Homo sapiens: one gene and its partners. The protein of the gene in region 1 interacts with the protein of each later gene in a pairwise test. Each region holds a gene or a part of one and is shown on either strand. Other genes may lie near its edges. The genes, in order: MAP3K3, GTF2I, ZBTB16 and GLRX3.

The links.
Region 2: the proteins of MAP3K3 (region 1) and GTF2I interact in a two-hybrid assay, tested with the Homo sapiens proteins (one large-scale study listed by BioGRID and IntAct).
Region 3: the proteins of MAP3K3 (region 1) and ZBTB16 interact in a two-hybrid assay, tested with the Homo sapiens proteins (one large-scale study listed by BioGRID and IntAct).
Region 4: the proteins of MAP3K3 (region 1) and GLRX3 interact in a two-hybrid assay, tested with the Homo sapiens proteins (2 studies listed by BioGRID and IntAct).

What each region holds. Positions count from the first base shown.
Region 1 is NC_000017.11:63,627,672-63,632,933, reverse strand, and holds part of MAP3K3 (mitogen-activated protein kinase kinase kinase 3), read right to left. Parts: intron 254-5,262; coding exon 132-253; intron 1-131. UniProt on the Homo sapiens protein: Component of a protein kinase signal transduction cascade. Mediates activation of the NF-kappa-B, AP1 and DDIT3 transcriptional regulators.
Region 2 is NC_000007.14:74,747,591-74,752,852, reverse strand, and holds part of GTF2I (general transcription factor II-I), read right to left. Parts: intron 4,839-5,262; coding exon 4,737-4,838; intron 3,829-4,736; coding exon 3,763-3,828; intron 3,586-3,762; coding exon 3,402-3,585; intron 1,493-3,401; coding exon 1,437-1,492; intron 764-1,436; coding exon 683-763; intron 1-682. UniProt on the Homo sapiens protein: Interacts with the basal transcription machinery by coordinating the formation of a multiprotein complex at the C-FOS promoter, and linking specific signal responsive activator complexes.
Region 3 is NC_000011.10:114,254,488-114,259,027, reverse strand, and holds the end of ZBTB16 (zinc finger and BTB domain-containing protein 16), read right to left. Parts: 3' UTR 2,263-4,540; downstream 1-2,262. UniProt on the Homo sapiens protein: Acts as a transcriptional repressor. Transcriptional repression may be mediated through recruitment of histone deacetylases to target promoters. May play a role in myeloid maturation and in the development and/or maintenance of other differentiated tissues.
Region 4 is NC_000010.11:130,169,950-130,175,211, forward strand, and holds part of GLRX3 (glutaredoxin-3), read left to right. Parts: intron 1-1,634; coding exon 1,635-1,687; intron 1,688-4,917; coding exon 4,918-4,957; intron 4,958-5,047; coding exon 5,048-5,140; intron 5,141-5,262. UniProt on the Homo sapiens protein: Together with BOLA2, acts as a cytosolic iron-sulfur (Fe-S) cluster assembly factor that facilitates [2Fe-2S] cluster insertion into a subset of cytosolic proteins.

The DNA of each region.
Region 1 (5,262 bases):
AACAGACTGTGAAAGGAAGGGGTCAAAAGCATTCAACCCTGGTAATGTAGTCTCCTTGGCTTTTCGTATATTTCCCATTTGAAAACCCCTCCCCAACAAATCTCACTTAGCTCTGCCAGGGTCACACACACCTGCCTATTTGAGTGACCTGTGTCTTTGTTCTTCATGGTCTCATATCCAGGCATCCGGTGACGTCGGTTCATCTGGAGGGCCACCAGATCGTTCATGATTGAGTTCAATGCCTCCTGTTCGTCTGCAATGAAAGAGAGCACATGGACTAAGACACTTAAATACAGACCAGCAAAGCTCTTTCACAAACTGTATAACTAATACTCAGGGAGTTCTGCCCAGGTAAAATGACAGACCCTGTAACTATAATCAGATGCAGCCCAAAAGGTCAGACTATGGCAATTTGAATTTTAATGGATTCTTTTTTTTCTTCGAGACAAGGTCTTGCTCTGTCACTCAGGCTGGAGTGCAGTGGCGTGATCATAGCTCACTGCAGCCTCCAACTCTGGGGCTCAAGTGACCTTCCCACATCAGCCTCCTGAGTAGCTGGGAACACAGGCATGCACCACCATGCCTGGATGATTTTTTTATTTTTTGTAGAGACGGGGTCTCCCCATGTTGCCCAGGCTGGTCTCCAACTCCTGGACTCCAGTGATCCTCCTGCCTCGGCCTCCCAAAGTGCTAAGATTACATACAGGTGTGGGCCACCATGCCTGGCCTTTAATGGTTTCTTAATAGCCCTCCAATCAGATTTCCTGCAGCAATATTTACCAATTCATTGCAGGGAAGGGACACGCTCAAACAGGGCAGTTGGTCCAGTGCCAGAGAAACTTAACCAGGAAAAATAGATGAAAAATTGAAGTGAAGAACACAGTACAATGTAATATGGTACTGAATGAAAAGATGAATCCATAGAGAGAGGATTATGGCACAGTGTCAGTCCCAGACTTATTCTTAAAGCATCATAAGGAGGAGAGCACACTTTAAAAGGTACCAAATAAGGGCCTCAGGTAACTGCTTTGAACAGAAGTTGTTTTACAAGCCTAGCATTTGAATGCCGCCACCACCAGCAACCCCCACAACTCTTTACAAGTTTATAGGCCTACTACTTCCCATGGGGAAGTCAAAGGGTAGTTCTATTGTTTTTCCTCCCTAAGCTGACCAAGCAATGCATTGTCTCCACCTTACTGGCATTACTTTTAATCCCCTTTTCTTGAAATAGCATGGAGTACTAGAGTTCTCATACATTGAAAACAACTGGCCAAAACCCAGAACACAAACCAGTCCAATTCCATGTTGTACAAATTTTTCCCAGGTCCTTTAAGAGATCTTTGCCCATTCAAATAGCATTTGGAGATTGAAAATGAATAAATCTGTTGATCGTGAAGGGAACATGAGGGATGAGTTGTTACACTTGCTTTGGTGACAACTGAGCCATTTGGGGACTTGGGGCACACCTTAAAAGAAGCAAATACAAAAGATTCCACCCAAAGAGAGTGCCTATCTTCTACCCTTTATCACTGTCCCTTGGAAATATTCTAATACCCTGTGGAAAGAAACGAACAGCATGAAATGTAGGAAGTAAAACTGCTCAAGTCTCTTCTCCCACTACTGATTAACTGATTGACTGACTGACTGAAACAGGGTTTCACTCTGTTGCCCAGGCTAGAGTGCAGTGGTGCAATCACAGCTCACTGCAGCCTCCTCCACCCCCAGGCTCAAACAATCCTCCACCTCAGCCTCCAGAGTAGCTGGGACTACAGGTGCACACCACCATGCCCTGCTAATTTTTGTATTTTTTATTGAGCGAGGGTTTCACCATGTTGCCCAGGCTGATTTCAAACACCTGAGCTCAAGCGATCCTCCCTCCTTAGCCTCCCAAAATGCTGGGATTACAGACATAAGCCACCGTGCCTGGCCCCTCACCTTATTTGCCTCTCCCCTCTTCCTAGACGAAATCTGCTCTGGTGCCCTATATGCCCTCTGACGAGGTACAGAAAAGGACAAAGTTGCCTATAAAGAGGTTTTTGCTTGTTCAGGAAAGTAAAATTAGATTTAAAACTTGCAGGAAAACCACCAGGAGCATAACTTCCCATATGATTCCACTTCAAAACATATACAAAAGTATGTATGAGAGTGACATAGCTGTAATATAGAAAGCATGCAGTAAAGGGGATAATGAATGAGGAGAAAGTGGGTATCTACAAAAAGACATCTGTCAAATTAACACATATATATCCCATCAATTATTTTATACCTTCTACAATTTCCCTATAGCTTCTTTAAAGAAGGGAACCTGGCTGGACAGGGTGGCTCATGCCTGTAATCCCAGCACTTTGGGAGGCTGAGGCAGGTGGATTGCTTGAGCCCAGGAGTTCGAGACCAGACTGGGCAACATGGCAAAACTACATTCTACAAAAAATACAAAAAATTAGCTGGGCATGGTGGTGCACGCTGTAGGCTCAGCTACTTGAGAGGCTTAGGTGGAAGGATCACTTGAGCCCAGGAGGTTGAGGCTGCAGTGAGCCATGATCATGCCACTGTACTTCAGCCTGGGCGACAGTGAGACCCTGTCCCAAAAACAAAAAGGGAACTTGGTTTTTTGTTTTGATTTTTATCCTCACAACCAAACTTTAAAAACTAGAGCATAACATCTAAGCTAGGAAGATTGGCTTATATATAATATGTATAGGTTTATATATTAAATGGCTTAGATATTATTAAATATATATAAAATTGGGCCAACTGTAATAATAAATTGGGATCAATACAAGGAGGATTATGACTAGGTTTAAGTGTTTTCTGAGGAGCATCCAACAATACTCCTAAAAGCGGAATGCAAGGAGTTATCAGTAACAACATTAACCACCCTAAGTATTGAGAATTTTCAGTTCTTTCAACTCAGATATTGAACAAAGATGGATGTGAATACACATACAGGCACACACATACACACACCACTTTTCAAGTCAGATCCACAAGTATGACTGAAGAAATCATTTCTAATTCTGTATAAGATGACGCTATTATAAGAGCTGGTTTATCAGGTTGACAAATTCTGTTTCCAGGAAGCTAACCAATTCCTGGCATTACTTAATGAACAAACTTGTTTAGTAGTTCCAGAGCTGAGAACACACTAGTGGAAAAGTTTGGCACTGTCATCTGAAATCTGGGACAACTGACACAAGTGAATCAGGGTTATAGAATCTAATTTTGTGTCAAAGTAAAATACATTCCTAGAGGTAGACAGGTTCTTCAACTGATACTTCAGAGGACATGTATAAAGACAGGAAGTAAATCAAGTGGCTCTTTTAGGCATTTCTTCCTGGATTGAGGTTTTGTTTTTGTTTTTTTTCCTTCTAAAAAGCAACATCACTATGCACACTTGGCTGCCACAAGCCAGTTATCTCTGTGGTATGGACTGAGACTAACTGAATTATCAGCACTCCTCCAATGTGGCATTCTTTAAAAACAAACAAAACTTTTAAAAACAAATAACAGGCTGGGCGCAGAGGCTCACGCCTGTAATTCTAGCACTTTGGGAGGCCAAGATGCGTGGATCACTTGAGGTCAGGAGTTCGAAACCAGCCTGGCCAACATGGTGAAACCCCGTCTCTACTAAAAATACAAAAAAATTAACTGCGCGTGGTGGTGTGCGCCTGTAATCCCAGCTACTTGGGAGGCTGAGGCAGGAGAATTGCCTGAACACAGGAGGCGGAGGTTGGTGTGAGCTGAGATAGCGCTACTGAACTCCAGCATGGCGACAGGGCGAGACTCCATCTCAAAAAAAAAAACAACAAATAACAACTTTCTTAGACTGAAGCAGTTAGGAATATGAACTTCAGAGTCAGAAAAATTTGGTAAGGAGGCCCTGAGCAAATCATTTATTCTCTCCAAACCTCAATTTCCTCATCTGTAAAATGGAGATAAAGCATCATTTCACAAAGCTGCTGTGGGAGTTAAAAGCAACAGAAAACCTACGAATTATTTCTTATGGTACCTAACACAGTAATGCTAAAAAAATGCTGGCTATTATTATCATCAATGAGAAAAGGTCAATGGAAAAAGACTGGAGGCCATTTAATCTACCCTAATACTTAATTTTATTACTGAACTTTTATAAATCATTAACAACAATTTACTGAATACTTATCTTGTATTACACATTAGAAAGTTTTAAAAGATATTTCAAGGTGTTCAAACTCTAGGGATAAAAAGATAAACAACACACAAATACAAAGTTGTATGAAAAAAAAGATAGAATTGGCAGGGCCCAGGGGCTCACGCCTGTAATCCCAGCACTTTGGGAGGCTAAGGCAGGTGGATCACCTGAGGTTAGGGGTTCGAGAACAGCCTGACCAACATGGAGAAACCCCGTCTCTACTAAAACTACAAAATTAGCTGGGCGTGGTGGCACATGCCTGTAATCCCATCTACACGGGAGGCTGAGGCAGGAGAACTGCTTCAAGCTGGGAGGCGGAGGTTGCGGTGAGCCAAGATGGTGCCATTGCACTCCAGCCTGGGCAACAAGAGCGAAACTCCGTCTCAAAAAAAAAAAAAAAGACAGAATTAGACAATATATAAACCAGAGTATATAAATACAAATGTATAAAAATAAATATTTTTAAATATGAGTAGCTTATATGGTTATATAAGAGGTTATATGGATGATTTTACATAATTGTTAACAGACTAAAGATTCTTTAAGAAAAGCAAGCTGGCTGGGCGTGGTGGCTCACACCTGTAATCTCAGCACTTTGGGAGGCCGAGGCAGGCAGATCACCTGAGGTCAGGAGTTCAAGACCAGCCTGGTCAACATGGTGAAACCTCATCACTACTAAAAATACAAAAATTAGCTGGGCGTGGTGGTGCACACCTGTAATCCCAACTACTGTGGAGGCTGAGGCATGGGAATAGCTTGAACCTGGGAGGCAGAGGTTGCAGTGAGCCAAGACTATGCCAACACATTCCAGCCTGGGCGACAGAGTAGAGACTCTGTCTCAGAAAAAAAAAAAAAGGATTGAAGAAAATAAGAGTGACAGGCCGGGCGCATTGGCTCACACCTGTAAGTCCAACATTCTGGGAAGCCAAGGCGGGCATATCACTTGATCCCAGGAGTTTGAGACCAGCTTGGGCAACATGGCAAAACCCCATCTCTACAAAAAATACAAAAAATTAGTCATGGCCAGGCACGATGGCTCATGCCTGTAATCCTAGCACTTTGGGAGGCCGAGGAGGGTGGATCAGCTGCAG
Region 2 (5,262 bases), on another chromosome or scaffold:
GATTTAAGTATTTGAGCACTTTGAGCTAATTAAATTTGAAATTGTTTAAAATAATGCCTAACTAAAAATGCTACAAATTTATTCTTGTTATAAAGACCTTTACCTGCTGTTTTATATAGATTTTTTTTTTTTCCCAGATGGAGTATGGCTCTGTCACCAAGGCTGGAGTGCACTGGCCCCATCTCGGCTCACTGCGACCTCCACCTCCCGGGTTCAAGCACTTCTCCTGCCTCAGCCTCCCAAGTAGCTGGGATTACAGCCACACACAACCAGGCCTGGCTAATTTTTCTTGTATGTTTAGTAGAGTCAGGGTTTCACCACGTTGGCTAGGCTGGTTTTGAATTCCTGACCTCAAGCGATCCTCCTGCCTCAGCCTCCCAAAGTGCTGGGATTACAGGCGTGAGCCACCGTGCCCGGTCTCATATAGACTTTTTTTAAGGAACAGACTAGCCATTTGGGTGGTTAACAGGATTTAGCTCATGCCAAGTGCCAAAACTTGCCGTTGCTGTTTGGAGAGCAACTGTATTTGGAAGGCAACTGCTGTAGGAGTCTGGGAGGAGCACCAGGCAACGTGTAATGTATCCGAGTCCCCGGATGAGCTGAGCAAACCTCTCTAGTTGGGAAAGTCCAAGAGGCCCTGAAGAGACCCCCAAAAACTCTGATGGAAGCAGAGAACTCATACCTGGAATTGTCACCTGAATGATGTTAAGGTCTTCAACACCTGATGCAGTAGTATTAACATTGGGTGATGAATTTATTTTTCCTGAAAATATACATTTAAAATCAGAATTTGTAGAAAACACGGTCAACATCTCTAATAATCATGCTGTCTGAGACTGTTTTATCTCAGTCCTGTTCAAGGTTCTTTCTTTCCATGGTAGATCATTTCAAGAAGACATGATGCCCCCTGAAGGGCTGCCTTTCACTGTTTTTCTCTTCCTGGGGGTACTTAGGAGATCATCACACACTCACAGAGCCACCCAATTATTAAATAACTAAAAATTGTGAAATAGCCTGAACTACAACTTTGAATGGGTTTTCTTTTTTCTTTTTGAGATGAGTCTTGCTCTGTTGTCCAGGCTGGAGTGCAGTGGTGCGATCTCGGCTCACTGCAACTTCCGCCTCCCGGGTTCAAGTGATTCTGCTGTCTCAGCCTCCTGAGTAGCTGGGATTATAGGCGCCTGCCACCACGCCTGGCTAATTTTTTATATTTTTAGTAGAGACAGGGTTTTGCCGTGTTGGCCAGGCTGGTCTCAAACTCCTGACCTCAGGTGATCCACCCACCTCAGCCTCCCAAAGTGCTGGGATTACAGGCGTGAACCACCATGCCTGGCCTCAATGGCTATTCTTTAAACAATGTTTGTAAACCACAGCTGCACAATGCATGCCTAAGAGCGTGTGTTCTATAGCAATGAAAATACAGAAAATACACTCACTGGGAGGGCTCTTAGAGGAGGTGCTCTCCTTAATCGCCGTCTCAAACATTTCGGGCCTATAGACAAAAGAGAAAAAAAATGTGCTGATCAAACAGTAAAACTCTAACATTAAAATTTAAACAACTCAAAGATTTACAAACCAGTAACTCTGTAAAGTCTAAATTCAATTCTTAGTCATGAAGAACAGAAATCACATGCTTATCTAAAGAACCACAGCCAAAAAGACAAACCACAATTGTAAATTTAACATCCATTGCTGCCTCTCATTGGCTGCCCTTCCCCTACACTGGTTTTATTGGCATCTTCTTTCCAAGGTTAGAATGTATCCTGAAAAGAATCAGCGCCAGAATTGAGGATGCAAAGAGAAAACGCCCCACAAACGCAGCATGGAAACACAAGATGGGCTGTGAAAACAGGAGCACTTGAGGCTCTCACTCCGGAAGCAGAAGCAGAGGGCTTAGAGGCTGCCAAACCTCTGCAGACCTGGCCAAAAGCATAAAAGGTGGCCATTGGCCGGGCGCGGTGGCTCACGCCTGTAATCCCAGCACTTTGGGAGGCCGAGGCAGGCGGATCATGAGGTCAGGGGTTTGAGACTAGCCTGACCAACATGGTGAAACCCCTTCTCTACTAAAAATACAAAAATTAGCTGGGCATGGTGGCACATGCCTGTAATCCCAGCTACTTTGGAGGCTGAGGCAGGAGAATCGCTTGAACCCAGGAGGCGGAATTTGCAGTAAGCCGATATCACACACCACTGCACTCCAGTCTTGGGTACAGAGCGAGATTCTGTCTCACAAAAAAAAAAAAAAAAAAAAAAAAAAAAGTGGCCAGCTTTGCTTGAGAGCATCCCTGGGTGACTCAAAATTAAGCCTGACACCAAGCAAATGAAACCTAAAATTCATTTCAATTGATTTCAAATAATTCATGTGCATTAGCATGTACTATAAAATTCCAATTATTCTTATTTCTTTTTTTAATTTTTTTTGAGACAGAGTCTTACTCTGTCATCCAGGCTGGAGTGCAATGGCACGATCTCCTCCGCCTCCTGGGTTCAAGTGATTCTCCTGTCTCAGCCTCCCTGAGTAGCTGAGATTATAGGTGCCAGCTACCACCCCTGGCTATTTTTTTTTTTTTTTTTTGTATTTTAAGTAGAGATGGGGCTTCACCATGTTGGCCAGGCTGGTCTCGAACTCCTGACCTCAAGTGATCTGCCTGCCTTAGCCTCCCACAGTGCTGGGATTTATGGCCGCACCCGGCCCATTCCTATCTATTTCAATTATGTTAGCCTAATCCACAGATGTTCAAGCAAACAGGAGAAATTGAAAATATTCTATTAAGTTGGAGAAATAAAAGGACTTGAAAAACTAAACAGCTGCTCAGATTCCAGCAGCATCAAATAGTAACAACATAGCTGTGTAGATTTAGCAACCAAAAGTCGTTATCTCTCTAGTATGGTGGAGTCCTCCTTCCCTTCTACCAGCAGCATAAGGAAAATTTCTTCTTCTTTTTTTTTTTTTTTTTTGTTTTTGAGATGGAGTTTTGCTCTTGCTGCCCAGGCTGGAGTGCAGTGGCACGATCTTGGCTCATTGCAACCTCTGCCTGCTGGGTTCAAGTGATTCTCCTGCCTCAGTCTCCCAAGTAGCTGGGATTACAGGCACGTGCCACCACGCCCAGCTAATTTTTGTACTTTTAGTAGAGATGGGTTTCATCATGTTGGCCAGGTTGGTCTTGAACTTCTGACCTCAGGTAATCCACCTGCTTTGGCCTCCCAAAGTGCTGGGATTACAGGTGTGAGCCATCGCACCTGGCCAGAAGTTTTAAACATATACAAGAGTGCAGCTTAAAAAGCAGTTTTTCTGACTCCAGAGCTAATTCAGCCCTGCCACAAACACAAACCCACATACCCATCTCCCAGTGTCAAACACAATCAACTCATGCTAATCCCACTTCATCCAGTTTCCTTACTTTTTAATGATGAACTTAATTTTGGCTTTGTTTCTGAGTATCTTCTCCAGCCTCGGAATGCCAAAAGTCGATGGTCTTCGGAATGGCACACCCTCAGGTAAGCCTTCCACATAAAAGTCTTCCGGGAAAGACTCAAATAACGCGAACGGCACCTTCACAGCTTGTTTAAGGCCAAGAGCTTCCCCTGCAAAACAGCCGCGTACACGAAACAGAACATGGGCGAAATGACGCCATTCAATCCCGAAAAACCCACACGTTGCCAATGACAGGGATACTCCAACGCTCAGTATCCCACTCTGCTCCCTCCTACTCCCATGAAGGCACCCTGCGTGGCAGTAAGAAGGTTTCAAAATAGACTTACCACATTTCTCATTGAAGAGATTTTCAACTTTCTGTTTTAGGTCCGTGATTTTGGCATTCCAGGCCTCTGCATATAAAACATAAGAGAGTTAAATTGCAATACTTATCACAGTACTTATCAATACACATTCACAGGCAGGAGTGTTTCATCTTATTTGTGCATCTTATTTTTTTTTTGTTGAGACAGAGTTTCGCTCTTGTTACCCAGGCTGGAGGGCAATGGTGCGATCTCTGCTCACTGCAACCTCCACCTCCTGAGTTCAAGCAGTTCTCCTGCCTCAGCCTCCTGAGTAGCTGGGATTACAGGCATGCGCCACCATGCCTGGCTAATTTTGTATTTTTGGTAGACACGGGGTTTCTCCATGTTGGTCAGGCTGGTCTCGAACTCCCAACCTCAGGTGATCCGCCCACCTCGGCCTCCCAAAGTGTTGGGATTACAGGCGTGAGCCACTGCGCCTGGCCTTATTTGTGCATCTTTAAGAAGAAATAAAAAATGCATAATCTTTTACCATGATATGACTTGACAACTACTCCCATCCTGATACATAAGCAAACTGTTTTAGTACATTGCTTTTATGTTGACTACAAATAAGTGAACAAATGCTAAAATAAAGAAAAAACAAATGAAAACCCCCAAAATGCCCCCACAAATTATAGTCTCTACTACATGCGAGGTATGGTTCTAAGTACTTTAAATGACAGTATTTATAATCCTCACCATAACCTCATGAGAAAGAAAGTAATGTTATTACCATTTTGCACAAAGGGAAACTGAGGCAGGGTGTATTCGCCTGCCCAAGTGGCATCGGATTTGAACTCAGATCTGAACTCAGGCAGCCTGGCTCTACGGGCTATTCCTTTAACCTTTGATATATACTGACTCACCAATAGGAACAATTCACCTGGTAAAATGAAACATAATGAACGTATTCTATTTAAAACTATGAAAGAAAGAAAAATAAAACGCTTACTTACCAAAGGAAAACTCTCTCCCTCGTGGCTTGAAGGGAACGTTAGAACCGTTAGTCTGGGTCGGGGTTCGAACAGCTGAGGTTTGAGGATTGTTGTTATTAGGGCCTAAAAGACAGAAAAAATAATGATAATCAACACACATTTAATGACGTAAGTGTCTCTAGGTTACAATCTTCAAGTCCAGCCTGTGCCAGAAAACAAAGCTAGGTTCAAATTGAAATGGGTATTCTTGTCATTCCGGCGAGTTCCACAGAAACCATTTTTCTATTTCTACAGAAACCCATTTTTCTTCTCTTCTTCTTCTTCTTCTTTTTTTTTTTTTTTTTTGAGACAAAGTTTCGCTCTTGTTGCCCAGGCTGGAGTGCAATGGCGCAATCTCGGCTCACCACAACCTCTGCCTCCTGGTTTCAAGCGATTGTCTTGCCTCAGCCTCCTGAGTAGCTGGGATTACAGGCATGCGCCACCAGGCCCAGATAATTTTGTATTTTCAGTAGAGATGGGGTTTCTCCATGTTGGTCAGGCTGGTCTC
Region 3 (4,540 bases), on another chromosome or scaffold:
AGACTCTATGCCTAATTTAGCTTCAGGGGTCCAGGGAAGGCTTCCTGAGAGAAGGTTTGAGCTGAAAAGTGAAAAAGGAGAAGTTGAGAGAGCCAGACAGAAGGGGTGTGTGTGTTTGCGTAGCTCTCAGAAGAGGAAACAGCACACGCACAGGCCCACAGGGGAATGGAGCTCGGTGTGGCCCAGAACACCCGTGGTCCCATCGGCTGGAGCAGAGTAGGGGTTGGCCGAGGGGCTCAAGAGTGATCTTAAGACGAAGTTGGGTGCTGAGCAGGGGCTCTGTCACTCAGGGTGTCTTGGAACTTTGTTAAGGAGTTTGAATTCCATCCTCAGAGTACTGAGGAGTCACCAGGGACTCTCATCTAGGGAGCGACATGATGCTATTTGCATTTTTGGAAAATCGCTCTGGGCAGCAAGCAAAGCAGAGGATGGAAGTGACAGAGGGTCTGGGCTGAAGCAGGGCACTGAGGCCAGTCATCTTCAGATCCCCAATCCCCTCCCTTCCTGGTGCCAGGGGCGTGAGGGGCTCCCACATGGGAAGGCCTGGCCGTGCTGAGTGGAGGGAGGCGGCCTTGGCCTTGGCTTCCCTTATGCCTCTTCTCACGGGCTGCAACTTGCCTGAGTCTTCAGCAAACCTCTGCTGGCGCCGGGCCTCAGCTCTCCACTTTGGTCAGGAGAGGAGTTCCTCAGAGCGACTGGGAGGAGAGCTGCTAAGGCTGAAATGACCCAAACGCCTCCTTGAACCCAGCCAGGACTACAGGGCATGCGGGGAGCTCCCGCTTAAGGTCCCTGGAGAACACCCTGCAGCCCCACGGCGGCATCCTCCCAGCCCCTGCCTCGGTGCCTGTCCCCTCTTCTGACCCCAGCAATGTGCCCTCCTGGTGAGTGTGTTCTGGAGGAGGCTGCCCACAATTGCCAGGGTTGGGGCAGAGGGCAGTGGCAGCCGGGGCTGGCAGGGGGCGGCAGTGGGGCCGCCTGCCCCAGGCAGGGAGGAGAGGGGTTGAGTCAGGCCACGGAGGGAGCATTCTCAGGCTGGCCTGGCCAGGGCCCCTTTCTCTCCATGAGATCATATCTGGGTCAAAGAGCATGTAAAGCTGGCAGAGCTGGCGGTCACACAAAGCCCATTCAGCCCAGCCCCTATTCACTCACCTCCTCTCCCCCAGCGCCCGCGCCGCCGCGACCCCAGCACAGCGCCTAAGCCCCAGCTTTGATGTCCAAGAACAGAAAACGGCGATTAAATGTTGTTTTAAAGAGGGAGTGCTCACTGCCCTCCCATCTGTCAAGAGAAAGCTGAGGCCTGAGGGAGGGGAGGGGAGCTGGGGGAGGGGCGAGGAGGCTGTGTGTGTGTGTCTGTGTGTGTGTGTCGGGGAGTTGGAGTAGAGTGTGGGGGTGAGGAAATAGGCAGGGGCCCAAGAAAAGCCAGGATCAGGACGGCTTGGGGGAATGGTGGCAACTGCTCAAAATCAAAACACAGAATTTGGTTAAGGACTGGTTTCCCAGATGAGAAATATGTGGAGAGGGAAAATAAGGTGGGACAGAGAAACAAAAGCAAAAAGAAAGGAGAAAAGACCACAGATGAGGAAGAGAGGGGAGGAGTGGAAAGGAGAGAAAAAAGATTGGGAGAGAGGAAAAAGATGAGGGGCAGGAGGGGTCAAGAAAGCACAGCAGACGGCAAAGAGGGAGAGGAGAAAGCAAAGACAGAGAAGCAACTTCTAGGGGCTGGAGGCCCCCAGGCTGCACCTGTTCCTCCTCCTGGGAAGATTGTCCGGTGGTAGGGGTAGCTCCAGGCGGTTTCTGCTCAGCAACCCCAGGGTCAGACAGACCCGGGTCTTGGCCCCAGGAGAACAGGGCTGAAAGGTAACCCTCCCAGTGCCACCCCTGGCAGGCCAGGCCTTGTTTGGCTCCCCAGGTGGGTGGCGGTGGCGCGTGGGGTGATGGCTCCCTGCGACTCCTGGTGATGCTGGAGGCCAGGCCTGATGCTCGGTGTGGGTTTACCCTACCGGAGTGACCCAGCACGACAATCATGGCTGTGTCCCCTGGGTCTTGAGGAGGAGAGGGGTTATTTTGGTCAGAGACAGGCAGTGAGGACGGCCTCAGGCAGAGGTGCTGAAGCACCACGTCTAGGATTGAGTGGCTTTGGTTTTACAGCTAAAGATAGGGCGATGCTTCTATCCCCGATAAGAGGAACGGGGAAAGGGCCAGAGAAGAGGGCTTGGCCCAGACACAGGGAGATGAGACAGGGAGGGAATCGTACCCATTGAGTGTTGTGGAAATCCTTTATTCCGTCCATGACAATGCAGAGCTTGCACGGCCACCTCCCACCCATCCCCTCCCCTGCACAAGGCCACCTGCTCCAATCTCCTTTCTTAACAGCTCTTGGCTGCTACAGACGCAGGCAGGGACCTTTGATTGTGTGGAAGCTTCTTGTTGAGAAATTTCTGAAGCTTGCTTAGCCACTAAGGAGTCAGTTGAAAATGTCTCTCTAAAGACTAAAGAAGACGTGAGACCCCTGCTTTGAGAACTCTGGAGTAAAGGAACCTGGCCTGGTATCAGGAGAGGTGGATGGAGTTCTGACTGCTGCTCACCAGCCGTGCAATCCTGAGCAAGTTATCCTAACACAGCCACGGATTCCGACTCAGCGGCCCGCTAGCATGGTAGCCCCAGGGCGGCCAGGGTTTGTCTGTTTGTCCTTTGCTGTAATTCCCAGCGCCGACAACAGTAACTGGTACATGGTGGTCTTGCTGAATAAGTGAACAAGTGCCTACCTAGCACATTGTACCAAGGATCATACGATATTAACGTATTTAACATTTTTTAACTAAAAAGTATTAGAAAAATGTTATTCAGTGCATCTGTGCCTTGTAAATGTGGCATAAAAGTGACACATAGATAAGTCTAAATATGTGTAATACAGAGCTTTCTTTTTCCCAGTCCCCACACAAAAATCTTAATTCCTCTACCATGTTCCCCACACAAGAAAAGGCAAAAAAAACAAAAAAAAAAAACAAAACAAAACCAAGTACTTCAATAAAAAGGTGGGACGCTTCAAGCGAGAGACAACTGAATTAACTTTATTCTCTTCTAACTGCAGATTCAAGGTATACAACTGAACATTGCTATTTTTCTTATGAGACTTATAAATAAAAATACAAAAAATGTTCACTACAAAAAAATCTACTGTTAGTAGGATGTAAAAAATATTCTCTTTGCTATAGAAGGCACAAACTTCACTTAGTGACACATGGAGAGAGAAAAAAACCTGCAGCAGTAAATTCATTTTTTCTTTTTTTTTCCTTTTTTTTTTTTTTTAAATCTTGTCAGAAACACTGAAATTACAAAGAAACGCGTCAATCTACACGAAACGAAGGCAGATGCGGAAAGCTGCAACCAGGACTGCACAACTTCGAGTGAAACTGCTTCGGAACTAGAACAGATAAGGAGCGGCAAGCACAACTCGGGGAAGTGGGCTGGGGAGGGGGCAGCAGGAGGCAGGAGAGAGGGAGAGAGAATGGAGTGGACAGAAATGAGACGGGGAGCCAGAGGGAGGAGGGGAGGGCGGGAGAGGGAGATGGAGAGGGCAAGGGTGAGAGGTGGGGAGGAGAGAAAGAGAGAAAGAGATTGATTTGTACAAAAAAGTAACCAGTAAAATTGAAGAAACAAAATTGGGCAACCTCCTAAAATTAGGCTAAGAGGAGGTGCTGAGGTAGACATTAACTAGAACATTGATGAATTAAAAACACTATTCTGTAATACAGAGCAATCCGACTGGCACTTGTGCTATCACGACATAAGACAAGCCACAAAAACAAACAAATAACAAAACGAAACATAATACCCAAACCAAAAGGCTTAGTTTTGCTTGGTCCAGCAGGGCAGCAGGGCCCTCAGTGCTATAATTTACATACATATATATATATATTTATCTTTATATATACGGGTTGGATGTCATGGTGCACCACCACGGCTTCTTAACCTTACGAAGATCATGCATAACACTATGTGAACAAATCCTATGATACACACCAGGAGGCTGGTACCCTGTCTGCGAAGTTGGATGCCAAGGGCCCGGGGAGGCCGCAGCTGCTGGCTAACCGGCCTGCAGGGCCTGCACCCCTCTTTCTCCCCACCCTTTTCCCCTGACCCAACCTCTCTGGTTTGTCCTGCACCCCTCTCCTGGCCATCTCTGCCTTTTTCCTCTCCCCATCTGTCCCACCGCGTAGGGTGAGTCTCGCCTTTCATCCTCCCACTGAAATATCCAGGTAAGTGCCACCATTACAGCCAAGCCGGCAGAGGCTCCAGGAAGGAGGAGGTATGATGGGAGGGGGAAAGATGACCACAGGATGGGCCTAGGAAAAGTGAATGAACAGAGTCTCATCTTCTGCTTTTCTGTCTCACATCCTGGTGCGCCCCCAGTTTTCACCCTAGCTCGGCTTGCCGGGAAGCAGGCCCAGAAACTACCCTGACCCTGCCAGCCGTCATGGACAGAGTCGAAAGGCTGCCCCACCTCTGCTCTCTCCCCTATAGGGAGGTAAGCTCAATG
Region 4 (5,262 bases), on another chromosome or scaffold:
TGAAATGGTCAGCAATTCTCATTTTTAATGGGATGGTTCTTACAGCTTTTTGATGTAAGTACATATTGATTATGCGTCATTTTGAATATCAAGTTTGATAGATTACTTCCACCGATAGTTTGAGCAGAACTAATTTTCTTTCAGATTGAGATCAGAGTGGTAATTTCCAGAAACCAGCCATACACATTTATATCATATTTTGTAATTTTCATAGCAATTGAACCTCTACTTAATTCTCAATCAGTTGTTGAAGTAGGCAGGGTTGGACAGACTTTGGCCTGTTTTAGAGATAAAGAAACCAAAGTTTTGAAAGGTGAGGCTGTTGGAATAAAGAAACTGCCTCACTTGTTAGCAAGATGCACCGGGCAAGTGACATGGAGAACCACTTTGCTCATTGGGAAAGGGACACAATACTTCACAGGGCAGACTCTGGTTGCCATAACTAGTGTATAAGTTAACATAACTAGTATAATGAAGCTAATTAGTTAACATAACTGGTTAATATAATTAGGTAATAATGAAAGTAACAGTAACAAAGAAAATGTTAATATAAATTTCAGCATGTTGGAAACATTAGGTTAGGGCCTAAATTCTTTGATTTTGGTTCAGTGTATTGAAACAATAGAGGAAGTTAATAATTCCTAGTAATGATAAAGTGACATTTTTTCTTATTCTCGGTAATGGTTTAAGTGGATATTTATTCTCAAAACTATTTTTTTCTGGAAACCTAGAAAGTATTAATACATTTTGGAAACAATGTTATTGGGGCTATTAAAATGTTGACATGGTACCATATCTTTTCCACAAGATTGCTGGAATTTGGAGTCCTGTGGCATGAAAAAAGCTTAAGATTTTCATAAACTCAAAAAAGTGTTAGTATTCTGTAATGTAAAAATAAATGAGGCTGGATGCGGTAGCTCATGCCTGTAATCCCAGCACTTTGGGAGGCCAAGGCAGGTCCGAGGTCAAGAGATCGAGACCATCCTGGCTAACATGGTGAAACCCCATCTTTACTAAAAATACAAAAAGTTTGCTGGGCGTGGTGGCGCATGCCTATAGTCCCAGCTACTCGGGAGGCTGAGGCAGGAGAATCGCTTGAACCTGGGAGGTGGACATTGCAGTGAGCCGAGATCACACTCCAGCCTGGGGACAGAGTGAGACTCTGTCTCAAAAAATAAATAAATAAATAAATAAATAAATAAAATAAAAAGAAAAATGGGAGTCAGAATCCAGTTGGAAATGGGAAAATAATTGTCATAATCATTGCAAAAAGGCTAAGTGAGTTAAGATCATTTTGCATGAGTGAATTAAACAATGAACTCAAATCTCTGTAGAAAATCTCGGTTTCACTTAGAGGAACTTTTTGACCACAGAGAATATAAACTGTTGGAACACATGTCATCTCAAGTGGTTACAAACCAAAGGAAAAGGAAGTCTGTGGGTCACGTGTGCCTGGGTTGATGTGTAGATGGGTTCGTACTTGAAGAGGGGATGAGCAGAAGCTCTGGGAGCTGAGTGAAAGTAGTGGCAGCTATGCTGGACAAGTGCTGTGCTGGTTGACAAGAGTATTAGGTACAACCATGCTGCTTGGGTCATACAAAAATTGTAATCTTTGCAAATTTTTTTTCATTTAGGAAGCAAAATGTGGATTCAGCAAACAAATTCTGGAAATACTAAATAGTACTGGGTATGTAAATGTTGTTTTCAAATGGTGTATTAAAAAAATTCCAACCTGGCCAGGCGTAGTGGCTCACGTCTATAATCCTAGCACTTTGGGAGGCTAAGACAGGAATATTGCTTGAGCCCAGGTGTTCGAGACCAGCCTGGACAACATAGTGAGACCCCATCGCCACAAAAAATAAAAAAATTAGCCAGGCATGGTCACATACATCTATGGTCCTAGCTACTTGAGAGACTGAGGTGGGAGGATCACTGGAGTCTTGGAAGGTGAGGCTGTAGTGAGCCGTGATTGCACCACTGCACTCAGCCTGGGTGACAGAGCAAGACCCTGTCTCAAAAAAAAGAAAAAAATATTTCAACTTTTCAGTTCTGCCACTGATACTTTTCAGTTGTAATGTCTATATCCATACATATCTGTATCTTTCTTTATTTTTTGCTGTATTGTTTTGTGAATGCCTTAACTTAGATCAAAATAGTATTTTCTGGCCAGTGTCAACCTATTAGTAACATAAAGGAGGTCTTTAGGCCACCTTTGGAATAACTATTTGTCTACTTTCCCAGAGGAAAATGTATAACTGAGTCCTCACCATGCATAAAGATATTTCAGGGGAATATATTATAGGTAGTTTTTAATTTTTCTCAAATATCCTAGTTGCTAAACAGTACAGAAAGCTGAGGGGCACATATTAAGGTCCATTACCTGGATCTGAGAGGTAGCACAAGTTAAATTGCAGTGCTCCTAGTTTTGATGTGCTCAGTGGTGAAGCTGTCAGGTAAGAACATTGCCATTGATTTTTGTGGTTAAAAACAAAAGCACTTATTTGGAGATATACAGCACATGTTCTATAGGGTTTGTCAGATATTTTTGTTTATTTCTCATTTCATGATTGTATCTTTTAAAAATCATGTATTCTAACTGTAGCTTCAAATAAATTACTTTCAAGTAATCTTTGATATACTTCAAAGATCTATTGAAAATAGTTAAATAGTACAGGTTGAATACAATTTCAGGGACATAAAAAGAATATAGGGCCAGGCACAGTGGCTCACACCTGTAATCCCAGCACTTTGGGAGGCTGAGGTGAGTGGATCACTTGAGGTCAGGAGTTCGAGACCAGCTTGGCGAACATGGTGAAACCCCGCCTCTACTAAAAATACAAAAATTAGCCGGGTGCGGTGGCGCACGCCTATAATCCCAGCCACTCAGGAGGCTGAGGCCTGGAGAATCACTTGAGCCCAGGAGGTGGAGGTTTCAGTGAGCTGAAACCACGCCACTGCACTCCAACCTGGGTGACAGTGAGACTCTGTCTCAAAAAAAAGATGTGGTTGTCGTCTTTAGATTACTATGACATTTTATAGAAGCAAGTATAGTCAGTTTATTGTAATTGTAACTTCAAGCCTGTTCCTTTCTTCACCCCTGCCCTGGGCCATACAGTGGGGGCTGGCTTGTTTTTGGTCATTTTTGATTTTCCCCTTTCTTTGTCGACCCTCTGCTGCGGGTCCACAGTGAGACACACACAGTCCATCCCTCTCTAGCAGTACCAGGTTCCTCAGGTGTCTTCTGAGCCGACACACTGGGCCTGACTCAGCTCGTGTCTTTGGTGGAACATCTTGGTAACTTGGCTTTCTGTCCCATATCTGTCTAATCTCCATTGTATTGAAAGCACCCTGTTGTCGCAGAGAGCAGGAGGATGCTTTGGGAGAGCATGACCTCCCAGCTCTGGACTTGCTAAGCGTGATTGGCCCTAGGATGAGTGAGGCCATCCAGGACCTCAGCTTCGCTTAACACGAGCAGACCATGCTCTTGCTGGGCGCCAAATGTATGTGGAGAAAACTCCTTTTTACTTTTTCTCATTTCTTATCTTTTCCTTTAGTAGCCAAAATACACATGCATGAGTGGTTGAGAACCAAGTGTATATTGAGGTTTGAAAGGTACCCTTTATGAATAACTTTTAGGAAGTATACTGGCTGTTAGGACTCCACATACATACACTTGGGCCCAGTGCTTCCTGGATCCTTTATGAATAGTTGTATAACTCATTGTTTTTATCACAGTATTAAGAGATCTGCCACCTTTAGTTCAACTTGAACAAAGACTTACATTGGGGTTTTTAAAAAGCATTAGGTTTACATTGGGGTCTTTTTTTGTTCTTCTTTCAAACATTCCTTTTTTGGTAATTGCTTCTGATTTATCCCGTCATTTAGTTTTTTTGACTGTTCCCTGTACCATAGACAGTTTCCTTGGGAACTTGTTTACTAAATAAACAAGATTTCCCTATGATGGTTTCAGTTTTATGGAAAGTCCAGTTTTTTTTACATGTAGCATTTTCTTTGGCCACCTTTGGGAATTGCACCTGTACCCTCAGGCACCCTGCAAGGATTTAGGCATACATGCTTGCTAATACCTGACCACCTAACGGTGAAATCGCTCTGAGTGGATACAGTTGGATATTCATGCAGTGATTTTTCATTTTTTGTACAAGTAATGTTCATTGTATGGTATAAAGCCACAAAGCTTTCATTGGCCTTTTGTACATTAAAAACAGCACCCTCTCTGAAATAAGTTTAAGTGTGGAAAGCATGTCTCTTGCTAAGGTGGAGGGAGCTGGCAGCGTGGTTGTTATCCGGCTGCTGAGCCCTCCAGCCTCCGTCCACGAGCACTACTACATCCTGCTGCACGGGCAGCTTCCAGGAGGTTAAGAAGCAGCAGCCTGGGGTGGGTTAGACATTAGAAGTGGGTAAGAGTGTTCAGTTAATGAAGGCTCGTGCAGATGGGGGTGTGGGTCTGATCCAGGGGTTGGCAAGTTGCAGCTGGCTGCCCATTTTTGTAAATAAAGTTATATTGGCACATAGCCACATCCCTTCATTTATACATTGTCTGTGGCTGCTTTTATGCTGACAGTTGCAGCAGAGAGCAGAACTGAGCAGTTGCAGCAGAGACTGTCTGGCCTGTAAAGCCTGAAGTGTTTAGTGTCTGACTCTTTAAGAAGAAGTTTGCCCACCCCTGGTCTAACCCAATATTGTCCGGAGAAAAATCCAGATAAAGTCATATGTTGGAATGACTAATTCTGTGTAGTACCAGACAGATTAAGAAGTAAAATCATTTCCATTGGTCTGTAGTACATTTTGTTAGCAGTGAAACGGTTTTCTTGATTATTTTAAAAACATCAAATGCATAGAGGTTTTACACTTTGATTTAACTGTATTTCCAGTTAAAATGTCTTCTCTTTTTTGCAGTGTTGAATATGAAACATTCGATATATTGGAGGATGAAGAAGTAAGTTCTGTGTTTGATGTTTCACCCTTGTCTTAGCTTTAATCTTAAGGGCCTGATAGGATGGTTTCAGGATTCCTGTTGTTTCTTTAGGTTCGGCAAGGATTAAAAGCTTACTCAAATTGGCCAACATACCCTCAGCTGTATGTGAAAGGGGAGCTGGTGGGAGGATTGGATATTGTGAAGGTAAGGCCAGTTCTTCTGCTGTTCTAAAGAACGGAAAAGATTTTGGTATGTTTAAAAATGATTTCATATTGAATGGAAACTTGAGAGTTGTTTTTGACTCCTGTTTCCAGCCTGACTCTCAG